Linked DNA regions of Homo sapiens: region 2 is linked to region 1. Evidence: fine-mapped expression QTL. A gene starts in region 1. The other region holds a variant in brackets. All regions are shown on one strand. Distances are between the middles of the regions. Region 1 holds the start of SWAP70 (switching B cell complex subunit SWAP70). Region 2 overlaps SWAP70 (switching B cell complex subunit SWAP70).

Region 1 (5,382 bases):
CTACATGAAGAAATATAGTAAAAAACTCTATTAAAATGAAATATTGGCCAGGCACAGTGGGTCACACTTGTAATCCTAGCACTTCATGAAACCAAGGAGGGCAGATCACCTGAGCTCAGGAGTTCAAGACCAGCCTGGCCAACATGGTGAAACCCCGTTTCTACTAAAAATACAAAAATTAGCTAGGTGTGGTGACGCACACCTGCAATCCCAGCTACTTGGGAGGCTGAGGCACGAGAATCTCTAGAACCTAGGAGACAGACGTTGCAGTGAGCCGAGATCACACCACCGCACTCCAGCCTGGGCAACAGGGCAAGACTGTGTCTCAGAAAAAAAAAAAACAAAAAACTAAAGCATATTCAAATAATCCCAAAGATGGAAGAAAAAGAGAGGAAAAAAAAAAAGCAGAAACCAAATTATAATAAAATGGTAGCCCTAAATCAAACCATATCAATAATTACATTAAATGTAAATGGCCTAAATATACCAATTAAAAGACAGAGATTGTCAGAATGAATAAAAAAAAAGACCCAGCTACATCTATTTATTAAAAACTTACTTTAAATAAAATGGCATAGGTAAGTTAAAAGTAAAAATAAAAGTAAAATGTAGACCTACTCATAACTCCCCCGAACTGGAAATAACACAAATTCTCACAGATGCATGGCTAAAAACTACCATACATCCATGCAATAGAATATTACTTAGCAATTTAAAAAATTATTGGTACACACAACAAAATGGATTAATCTCTAAGGCATTATGCTGGGTAAAAGAAATCAGTTTCAACAGTTACAAACTATATGACTCCATTTACATGGCACTTCGGAAAAGGTAAAACTATAGCAATTAGGAAAGATCAATGGTTGCCGACAGTTGGGGTGGAGGCAGGGCAACATCAGGGAGTTTTTTAGGATGATGGAACTGAGGAAGCCATGGTTGTGGTGATAGTTATATAAATCTATACATATGTTGAAATTTATAGAACTGTACACCAAAAGTCAATTTTACTGTATGTTAATATTTAAAAATGAAGTAAAATAAAAATTACGTGGATGATCTCCATGGACCCTTCCAGACTATGATTCTATCAGTGAGAAAAAGAAAGGAGAGGCAAAAGGAAGACAAGGAGAATGTTAAGTCCTACTGGCATAAAAGCCACTACTCAGAAGAACGGGATTACTGTACAAAAATATACAAAACAAACCCAATCTTCAGAATTTATTCCCAGAAGGGGCTAAGAAAACCGGACATTCGGATCTAAAATATGTATATTTTTAAATGCCTATGAATAGCTTTTCTTGTCTGTTTCTATATTTTTTTACTTTGAAGAAGCTGCCAATTTCTGCTGGCTTAATGCCAATTTCGCTGCTTGGGGTTACTCAATTTACAAGCATCCCTTTATTTATACCCTATACTCTAGGGTCTCCGGCAGTCACAATAACGACTCTGAAAAAGCAGTCGCTTTTGCAGGGTGCCAGAAAGATCAGCGCTCCTCACCCGGAACTAAGGTCCCTGTGGGACACAGTACACCCCGTCCACTAGTTCCAAACTTAAAAGACGCTGGGCGGAAGGTCTTCCCAAGTCAAAAAGCCTCCCAAAGGAGAAGGACCCTGGAGGCCGGGCTTCGGGGCATTTCTGCGTCTCCGGACTGCCCTGTCGCCTCCGGGGCAGCTAGCCGTTTTGAGGACTGTCCTGGTGTGGGGCTGTGGGCTGCAGAAGGTTCTGCCCAGCGACCTTGGGCAAGTCCCTTCCTCTCCTGGAGTAAGAGGAAAATTCTGGGAAGGCTGTGTAAGGGAGCTTCCCATTGCCGCCTCAGAATCCACTTTCTGCCCCCCGCTCTCCAACGCCAAGAAGGAATCACACTTGGCCCTCCAGACTTCACCCCAGCCTTATGCCCGCCACCCTTCCCAGTCCCTGGGAGACCCGCGGGAACTAACACATCCAACCGAGGGCATGGCCCGAAGGCAAGGGGGAGGCAGTAAACACCAAATCCCGGTCTCAGACCCACTCCGCCCCAAGCGGGCCTACCGGGCGCATTCCGACCCGCCCCGCCCTGCGGTCACGGCCCGCCAGGTCCCGCTTCCACCCAAGGGAAGTACAGAGCGCGCCGGGGAGGGTCGGGTGGGGGGCCGGGTCAGGAGGCGCCCACCTTGAGCTGGGACTTGGAGACCTTGCCGCTGTGGTCCTGGTCGAGTGCGGTGAAGGCGTGCCAGATGGCTTTGAGCAGCTCCTCCTTCAAGCTCCCCATGGCCGCGGCCCTGCTGCCCCGCCAACCCCTCCTGCCCAGCCAGCCCCTCCGCGCCTCGGACGCCCCTCAACCTCCGCAGCCACAGCCCGCCGCGCAGTCACCTGACCCGCCAGGCCCCGCCCCCGCCAGGCCCCGCCCTGCTGCCGGCGCCGGTCCAGTGCCGCGCCCACAGCCGCCAGAGTGTGGGTTCTGCGAGTCAAGCCACGCCTGGTGGCAAGAATGCTTGGCCTTCAGTGTCAGCCAGGACGGTAAACACATCTCCCTAATGTTTCCCAGACCAGTTCGGGCCATTTTGGGTGCTCGAGTACAACACCTCACACAAATGACCGCGTCTTGAGGAAAAACCCGAGAGATTAGGTGAGCAGCCTACCCGCCTCCTCCCAGCGCCCCGCAGTGAAAAAGGGATCCCTGGTCCTGTCCTGGGAACGGAGTCACTGTCTGAGAAGGCCAGAGAAGACCCCGAAAAGTCCCCAGACCAGGACTGAAATGATAGCGCAGTCCCAAGTCGGGGAGATGCAGGGCGGCGGGGAGGCAGGAAGGACCTCGAGGGAAGTTTGTTGGTTCATTTCGCAAAAGTTTATTCATGCATACTCTATCTTGGGTTCTAGGGACACAGCGACGACGTTTAAGGGGAGTTTAGAAGTCAGGGTCAGGCAGCATTTTCTTCCTAACGCCTAGCTGTTGTTCAATTCACATCTTAGGAGGGGTTTGACCTGGGTAATACCTCTCTGTAGTGTTTCTCTGCTTGCAGAATAGGAGATCTGGGCCAATTCCAAATCACTCCACCCATTTTACTAATCCAAAGAGATGGACCATTTAAAAGAACGTATTCGGCCAGGCGTGGTGGCTCACGCCTGTAATCCCAGCCCTTTGGGAGGCCAAGGCGGGCGGATCACCTGAGGTCGGGGGTTCGAGACCAGCCTGACCAACATGAAGAAACCCCGTCTCTACTAAAAATACAAAATTAGCCGGGCGTGGTGGCACATGCCTGTAATCTCAGCTACTCGGGAGGCTGAGGCAGGAGAATCGCTTGAACCCGGTAGGCGGAGGTTGCAGTGAACCAAGATCGCGCCATTGCACTCCAGCCTGGGCAACAAGAGTGAAACTCCGTCTCAAAAAAAAAAAAAAAAGTATTCGATTGCAGCTGTTGAATTAATATCTGTTCGCGGTGGTCACAATGGTCACTTGATCTCTTTGGGCTTCAAATTATCCCGTATAAAAAGAGCAGGGTTGCACCAGATGTTCTGGAAGGGTTCTTGCAGTACTAGCATCCTAGGATAATAACTATTGCCGGTTAACTAAGGTCTGATTAAATCGCCAGGCTCAGTACCTCTCCTCTCCAATCCTGGACTAATTGGAGAGAACAATAAACACCAAGAGTTTTTAAAATGAGGTGGTTCTCAGATGAAGTTTGGTTTTGTTTTGCTTTTTTAAGTTCCTTAATGCACATGTTTGCCTTATTAAGAAAGGAAAAGATCTTCATAAGAAAGGGATATTTGGAAAGAGAAGAACAAGAAGGAGCCTCTTCAGTGAGTTTGAGATCAAAAAGGAACTGGTGGGGAAGAGGAGAGGATGGCCCCACTGACGAAAGAAGGGGCAGGAGCAAAAGGGTGGCCAGCCCCTCACTGTGACTGTCCTGAAGGTTCTACCCCATTTCATCACCATTTGTCAGGACTTTTCTTGCCCTACCAGAATCCAATTTCTATCATTTATCTTCCCCATTTCCAGCCCAAGTCTGCCAGTCAGCAAAACCACATGGTTTAACCTCTGATTTATTCATGCGAAGTCAGCTTACCCTGAGTAGCAAAAAAAAAAAAAAAAGAAGAAGAAGAAAAAAGAAACGAAGAAAACCTCCTAATTCTCAAGGTTCAGTTTAACCACTATATGACCCTTCTTCTCTCTCAGTATCTGGAAGTACCAAACATATTTCAAAGCCTTTTTTTTATGACAAGACCAGGACATTGTGGACTTCCAAATTCCTACTTCTCCCATCATCCTCATTCATACAATCCAAACGCATTTTTTTTCTTTTTTTTTCTTTTCTTTTTTTTTTGAGACAGAGTCTCACTCTGTTGCCCAGGCTGGAGTGCAACGGTATGATCTCAGCTCACTGCAACCTCCGCCTCCCGGGTTCAAGCGATTCTCCTGCCTCAACCTCCCAAGTAGCTGGGATTACAGGCGCCAGCCACCACGCCCGGCTAATTTTTTTATTTTTAGTAGAGATGGGGTTTCGCCATGTTGGCCAGGTTGGTCTCAAACTCCCAGCCTCAAGTGAGCTGCCCTCCTTGGCCTCCCAAAGTGCTGGGATTACAGGCGTGAGCCACCATGCCCTTCCTATCCAAACAAATTTTAAAGTAGCATGATGTCATAGAAAGCGCTGTGCTTTTCCTGGGTGCAGTGGCTCCTGCCTGTAATCCCAACACTTTGAGAGACTGGGGTGGGAGGATTGCTTGAGGCCAGGAGTTCAAGACCAGCCTGGGCAATGTAGCAAAACCCCGTCTCCACAAAAAAATTGAAAATAAGAAAGAAAGAAAAGTAAAGAGTTGTGCTTCAGAATCTAACAGATTATATTAATCTAATGCTGTGTAACCAATTAACCCAAAATTTAGCAGCTTAAAACTATAGTAAACATTATTTCATATTTTCTGTAAGTCAGGAATTTAGAAGCCACTTAGCTCTATAGTTCTGGCTTGAAGTGTCTCAGGAGGTTGCAGTAAAATATAGGGCTGTAGTCATTTGAAGGCTAGGCTGATGCTGGAAAATCTATTTCCAAGGTGGTTCACTCACATGGATGGGTCGTTTACAGAAGGCCTCAGTTCCTCTGTATATGGGCCTGTCCTCAGGCTGCTTGAGTATCCTTACAACACGTCAGCTGGCTTTCAATTGATTCAAGAAAGAGAAAGATGGAAGTTGCAATGTCTCTTACGATCCACCATCAAAAGTCATTCACCATCATTTCTGCAATGCTCTACTGATTGCTCAGGTCAAATCTATTTGATTTGGGAGGGAAACTACAAAAGGATATGAGTACCAATGGGCAAGAATCATGGGGGTCATCTTGGAAGATGGCTACCACACAGATGTCGGGAAGAATCCGGGCTTCCCCATTGACTCATCTATGAGTAAATATA
Region 2 (5,382 bases), 30 kb before region 1:
GATAAAAATAGTAAGAATTTAAAACTTAGAAGTATACAAAGAAATTTCATGCTCGGTGTTATAAATAGGCAAAAGGAGGAATTCACAAACTTTTGATATAAATGATTACTTTCATATCTAAACTAAATGTACATGATATGGAAAGATGACACTAATATATTGTTCAATTAAAAAAATAAGTTGCTTATATCCTACTGGTCACATAAAAAAACCTTTTTTTAAAAAGTTGCAGAGCTGTATGTATAATATGATCCTATTCATGTTGAAACAAAATAGCATATATTGATTTGAGGGTGTGTGTACATGTGTATGTGTGTGTGGGTGCATGTGTGTGTATGTTTTCAGGTAATTTTTGAAAGTCTACAAAGATATTCTCTAAATTATTAACACTGGTTACTCCAGGAAAATCAGACTACAAAAAATTAAAGCAACGTTCACTTTTTATTTCACATATTTCTGTATTAACTGCTTATGTACTACCTTTTGTAACTTTTTCATCACCAATTTTAAAAATTATTTAAATGTACCATCTTTTCTTGCATCAAATTCAAAATTTTAGTGTGTCAATTTGTAATGATCCAACCCAAGGGAAAAACCGAACATGGCCCCAAACACTAATAGGTGATATTTGACTTCCAAGCACCTCACAGGTTTTTTAAAGCATCTTTACTCAGAACATATCCCAGAGGAAATATCTAAGTGGTACCCTGAAAAGTCTGGGATAAGAGTTGGCTGTATAATATCTATACAGTAAAGATAATCATCACTTTTAATATTCACACATTACTCCACCACTTCCACACTTTAACAACCATTGCCCCAGCCTGGGCAACATGGCAAAGCCCCGTCTCTACAAAAAAATACAAAAGTGAGCCAGGTGTGGTGGTGTACGTCTGCAGTCCCAATAATGGGAATCTGAGGTAGGAGGGTCACCTGAGCCCGAGGAGGTCAGAGGCTACAGTGAGCTGAGATCGTGCCACTGAACTCCAGCCTGGGTGACAGGATGAGACCCCTCAAAAAAAACAACTATTGCCAGTATATATGAAACCAGATTTTTTTTTCTTCTAAAAACAAAAACAACAACAACAACAAAAAAAAACGGATACCTGTGCAGCACGTGCAGGTTTGTTACATAAGTGTACGTGTGCTGTGGTGGTTTGCTGCACCTATTGACCTATCCTCTAAGTTCCCTCCCCTCATCCCCCAACCCCCAACAGATCCTGGTGTCTGTTGTTCCCCCCTCTGTGTTCATGTGTTCTCATTGTTCAACTCCCACTTAGGAGTGAGAACACGTGGTGTCTGGTTTTCTGTTACTGTGTTAGTTTGCTGAGGATGATGGCTTCCAGCTTCATCCATGTCCCTGCAAAGGACATGATCTCACTCTTTTTTAGGGCAGCATAGTATTCCATGGCGTATATGTACCACATTTTCTTTATCCAGGCTATCATTGATGGGCATTTGGGTTGGTTCCATGTCTTTGCTATTGTAAATAGTGCTGCAATAAACATACGTGTGCACGTATTTTTTTTTTTTTCTGACACGGATTTTCGCTCTTGATGCCCAGGCTGGAATGCAATGGCGTGATCTCGACTCACTGCAAGCTCTACCTCCCGGGTTCAAGCAATTCTCCTGTCTCAGCCTCCTGAGTAGCTGGGATTACAGGAGCATGCCACCACACGTACTAAAAATAATTTTTGTATTTTTAATAGAGATGGGGTTTCATCATATTGGTCAGGTTGGTCTCAAACTCCTGACCTCAGGTGATCTGCCCGCCTCGGCCTCCCAAAGTGCTGGGATTACAGATGTGAGCCACCCTGCCTGGGCATGAATGTATCTTTATAGTAGAATGATTTCTATTCCTTTGGGTATATACCCAGTAATGCAATTGCTGGGTCAAATGGTATTTCTGGTTGTAGATCCTTGAGGAATCGCCACACTGCCTTCCACAATGGTTGAACTAATCTACATTTCCACCAACAGTGTAAAAGCGTTCCTGTTTCTCCACAGCCTCGCCAGCATCTATTGTTTCCTGGCTTTCTAATAATCACCATTCTGACTGGCGTGAGATGGTATCTCATTGTGGTTTTGATTTGTATTTCTCTGATGATCAGTGATGTTGAGCTTTTTCATGTTTGTTGGCCGTGTAAATGTCTTCTTTTGAGAAGTGTCTGTTCATATCCTTTGCCCACTTTTTGATGGGGTTTTTTCTTGTAAATTTGTTTAAGTTCCTTGTAAATTCTGGATATTAGACTTGATTTTTTTAAAGCACCCTGAGAGAGAATAGGTACAGATTAACACAAAACACAGTTCTTAATTTCAAAGAATGAACCAAGTTGGAAAAACATCAAACCAAGTTTAGAAGACAGTGGAGGAGAGGGAAGAATAGGAAGCACTGTCAGTCTCTCATTCTTTCTTCCTTTCTGGTTTATCTAGTGATTCTTTGTACCTCAACTCCTTAGTGAACTCACCAACAGGGGGCTTTTGGGCCCACTTGAAACATGCAAACCAAACAATGCTACACCCAAAAAAAGGTTAGAATCATACCTTTTCCAAAATGAACCTGTTTAAATAAGGCATGTAGCCCTGGTTGGACACTGGACCCTCATCATCATCCCTGAAGTGCTCTTCAAGGGCAACTGGGTCATGAGGAACCTTCAGCACCGTGCACAGGTTATGGGAAAGGACCTGCAAGGGAAAAGAAAATCGTTTAAAGACTCCCACTAACCAGCAC[A/G]TGACACCTTCACCATGAGTACAACATGCTGCTCCCTCTCCTGGGTAGAGAAAGATGGAAAATAAACTAGCAAAAACAGGGTGAGGACTGCTCAGCTGCAAGCCCCTACTTGTAACCTGTTATTCTTTCTCATTCCTTCCCAGGTTTGGTTCACTTAGAACTAGTCTCTATTACATGCCTACTATGAGCCAGGCTCCATGCAAGATCTGTGAATATAATACTCCTGTGGTCTTTTACTAATTTGTCCACATCAGAAAGAAAAGTGGGGTGGGGGGGGAAGTCTAAGAGAATGTGTTCAAAATTAAACTTTTCACCAAGTAGAGCAGAGTCAGCCAATTAGAGCTGTTCAGAGAAAGAACCTGGTATTATTGGGAGGCTGCAGCCAGGGGTTCTGGACAAGGAGGCTGACCTGGGCAAGTCACAACCTCTCCAGGCTTTAGTTTTCTCATTTATTCAATAGAAAGGGCCAAATTAATATACCAAATATTAATTAGGAATCTCTAAGTATCTAAACATTTCTAAAATTCTATGACTAGGCTAAATTTCAGCATGAGTATAAAAGAATATAAATATAAAAAGAGAAAGAAATCAAGGGCCTGGATTAGATTCAGGAAAAAATTAAATAGCAAAAATAGGAGTCGCCAACATGGTTAAAAATATTTTACAGAAAACCTGCATTCCATAGCATAAATACATATAAAGGGCTACTGGTCTTGCAATAACCTAAGTTCACACTTCAAAGTCCAGGTACAGTAGTTAAATGAGCAGTGTGGGCTACCTTAGTATTAATCTTGTTTTACATTAAATGAAAATTTCAAGATAGAACTTAAATCCCTTCCATTTCATTTGTGCTTTCTGAACAGGTCAAATTACATAGCTAAGGCTGTATTTTCTTCAACAGAGAATCTTCCTAGTTGAACCCCAGGTAAAAACGTTCCTTATTTTTCTCAGCCCTAAACATTTAACCTTAAGGAGCCACATTCATCTCAATAAATACTTTCATTTGCATTAAGCGAGTCCCTTTTTCTGCATACACATATTTCAGTTAGGAGTTTTTTTAAGATTAAACATTTTTAATCTATAAAATAATTTGCATATCTTCTTTCTAAATTTGTTTTGTTTCTCAAAGCTTCATTTATGTGGAGATCCTTTTCTACATGCTCTACTGGTTTTAAGGAAGTAAGTTAAGGAAGTAAATTCACAAATGGTTATAAATGCAGTAATGAAGACTACAAAGCAGGCTGTGTTTCTCAAGCAAACCCTGTGTTTGCCAGTAAAGCACATGAAAAGAGTACGGTGGAGCTTTTATTGGAGAATCCTGCACCACAATCAGCAAAATTTTAAAAAGATATTTAATTTATATTAGCCTAGTAAATCCTATATACTAAAGATCAATTTCAAGAATATAAAGAGCTTAATAACTGTAAAATGCTATGGAAATACAAGTATTAAAGAAATGCACACTTCTCAGATCAGGTTCAAATGTCATTCAAATTTTAAAATCATTTGGAACTTTACCCAAGTTAACAATTCCCAACTACTGGTTAAATTAAGGTATATCCATAAAACATAAAAACCATGAGAAAGCTTGCTATGTACGGATATGAAAAGATCTCCAACATAAATTAAGTGAAAAAAACAAGGTACCTAAGAATATGTATGCCATCTTTTGTATAAAAAAGAAAAGGGAGGAAGAAAAGAAATTCTGGAGGGATATATAAGAAACTAGTAACTGTGAAAGGAAGACAAGTTTGATGAGACCAAGGTTAGAAAAAGACTTCACTGTAGCTCTTCTTTGTATTAAGTTTTTTTAAAAAAAATTAACCTACTCAAAAATGTAGTACATATTTTTAAAATTAAATATATATATATATATATATATTTTAAGTGGCCAGCCTAAGATCACATAGATCAATCTATTTATCTTCATAGCCTATACTTTTTCTTCTACATTAACCTGCTGACTAGAAATGAGGTGTAAAAGGAAGACATATTCCACAGCAATGTACCATGACTAATGGATGAGTGAGCTGTAAGGGCAATAAATGAGTTCAGAAAAGGAGAAATAGTATGTGTTACAGTGACTTCACAGAGGAAGTAAAATGTAACTTATGGCTTACAGGATAGGTAAGGATAGCTTTAGGATAGGAATAGAGGCAAATACAAAAATTTCCAGATAGGGGAATAACATGATAAAAGTAGCTGATTAATCCAAAGCCTTCAGGAAACAAAAAACACCATCTCTCCCATACCCACCCTGTTCTCTACCTTAGGGTTTCACAGATCCTCTAACTAAAGCCCTGGCAGGGGCCTTGGATGTCATATTGTCATCCTCATCTTATAAATGGTGACTACAGACTCACAGATATTAAATTTGTTTTTCTTGACTAAAGTTACTGAGAAGAACTGAGACTAGAACTCGGGTTTTGTAATCTCTGGTCCAGCACTCTCCAGTAATAAGAAACATTATGTCTTCAGTTGTCTAAAGTCAACAATGCTCTTTGTACATATAGATGCTTAGTTTGATTAAGTGATCCCACTGCAGAAGATATAGATTTGAACTCAAGATTTCAGCCTTCGACAATTAAACAGCACTCTTGTTAAACACAGGGATGGCTAAATTCAGTGATAATTTTCTTAACCATCTTTAC

Evidence for each region. PIP is the estimated chance that this variant, and not a neighbour inherited with it, causes the effect.
Region 2: its variant is the best candidate, but not a certain one, in a credible set for the expression of SWAP70 in whole blood (TOPMed, PIP 0.73).

What each region holds. Positions count from the first base shown.
Region 1 is chr11:9,661,049-9,666,430 of GRCh38, reverse strand. SWAP70 (switching B cell complex subunit SWAP70) reads right to left here and starts at 2,354. Exons shown (of 12, transcript NM_015055.4): 1 at 2,153-2,354. The coding sequence starts at 2,251. RefSeq lists enhancers at 1,747-1,866, 2,977-3,176 and a silencer at 2,007-2,506.
Region 2 is chr11:9,691,449-9,696,830 of GRCh38, reverse strand. SWAP70 (switching B cell complex subunit SWAP70) reads right to left here. Exons shown (of 12, transcript NM_015055.4): 2 at 2,545-2,685. Among named protein-coding and RNA genes, the nearest start is that of SWAP70, 30 kb to the right of the region's middle. The variant A/G (reference allele first, on the strand shown) is at 2,732.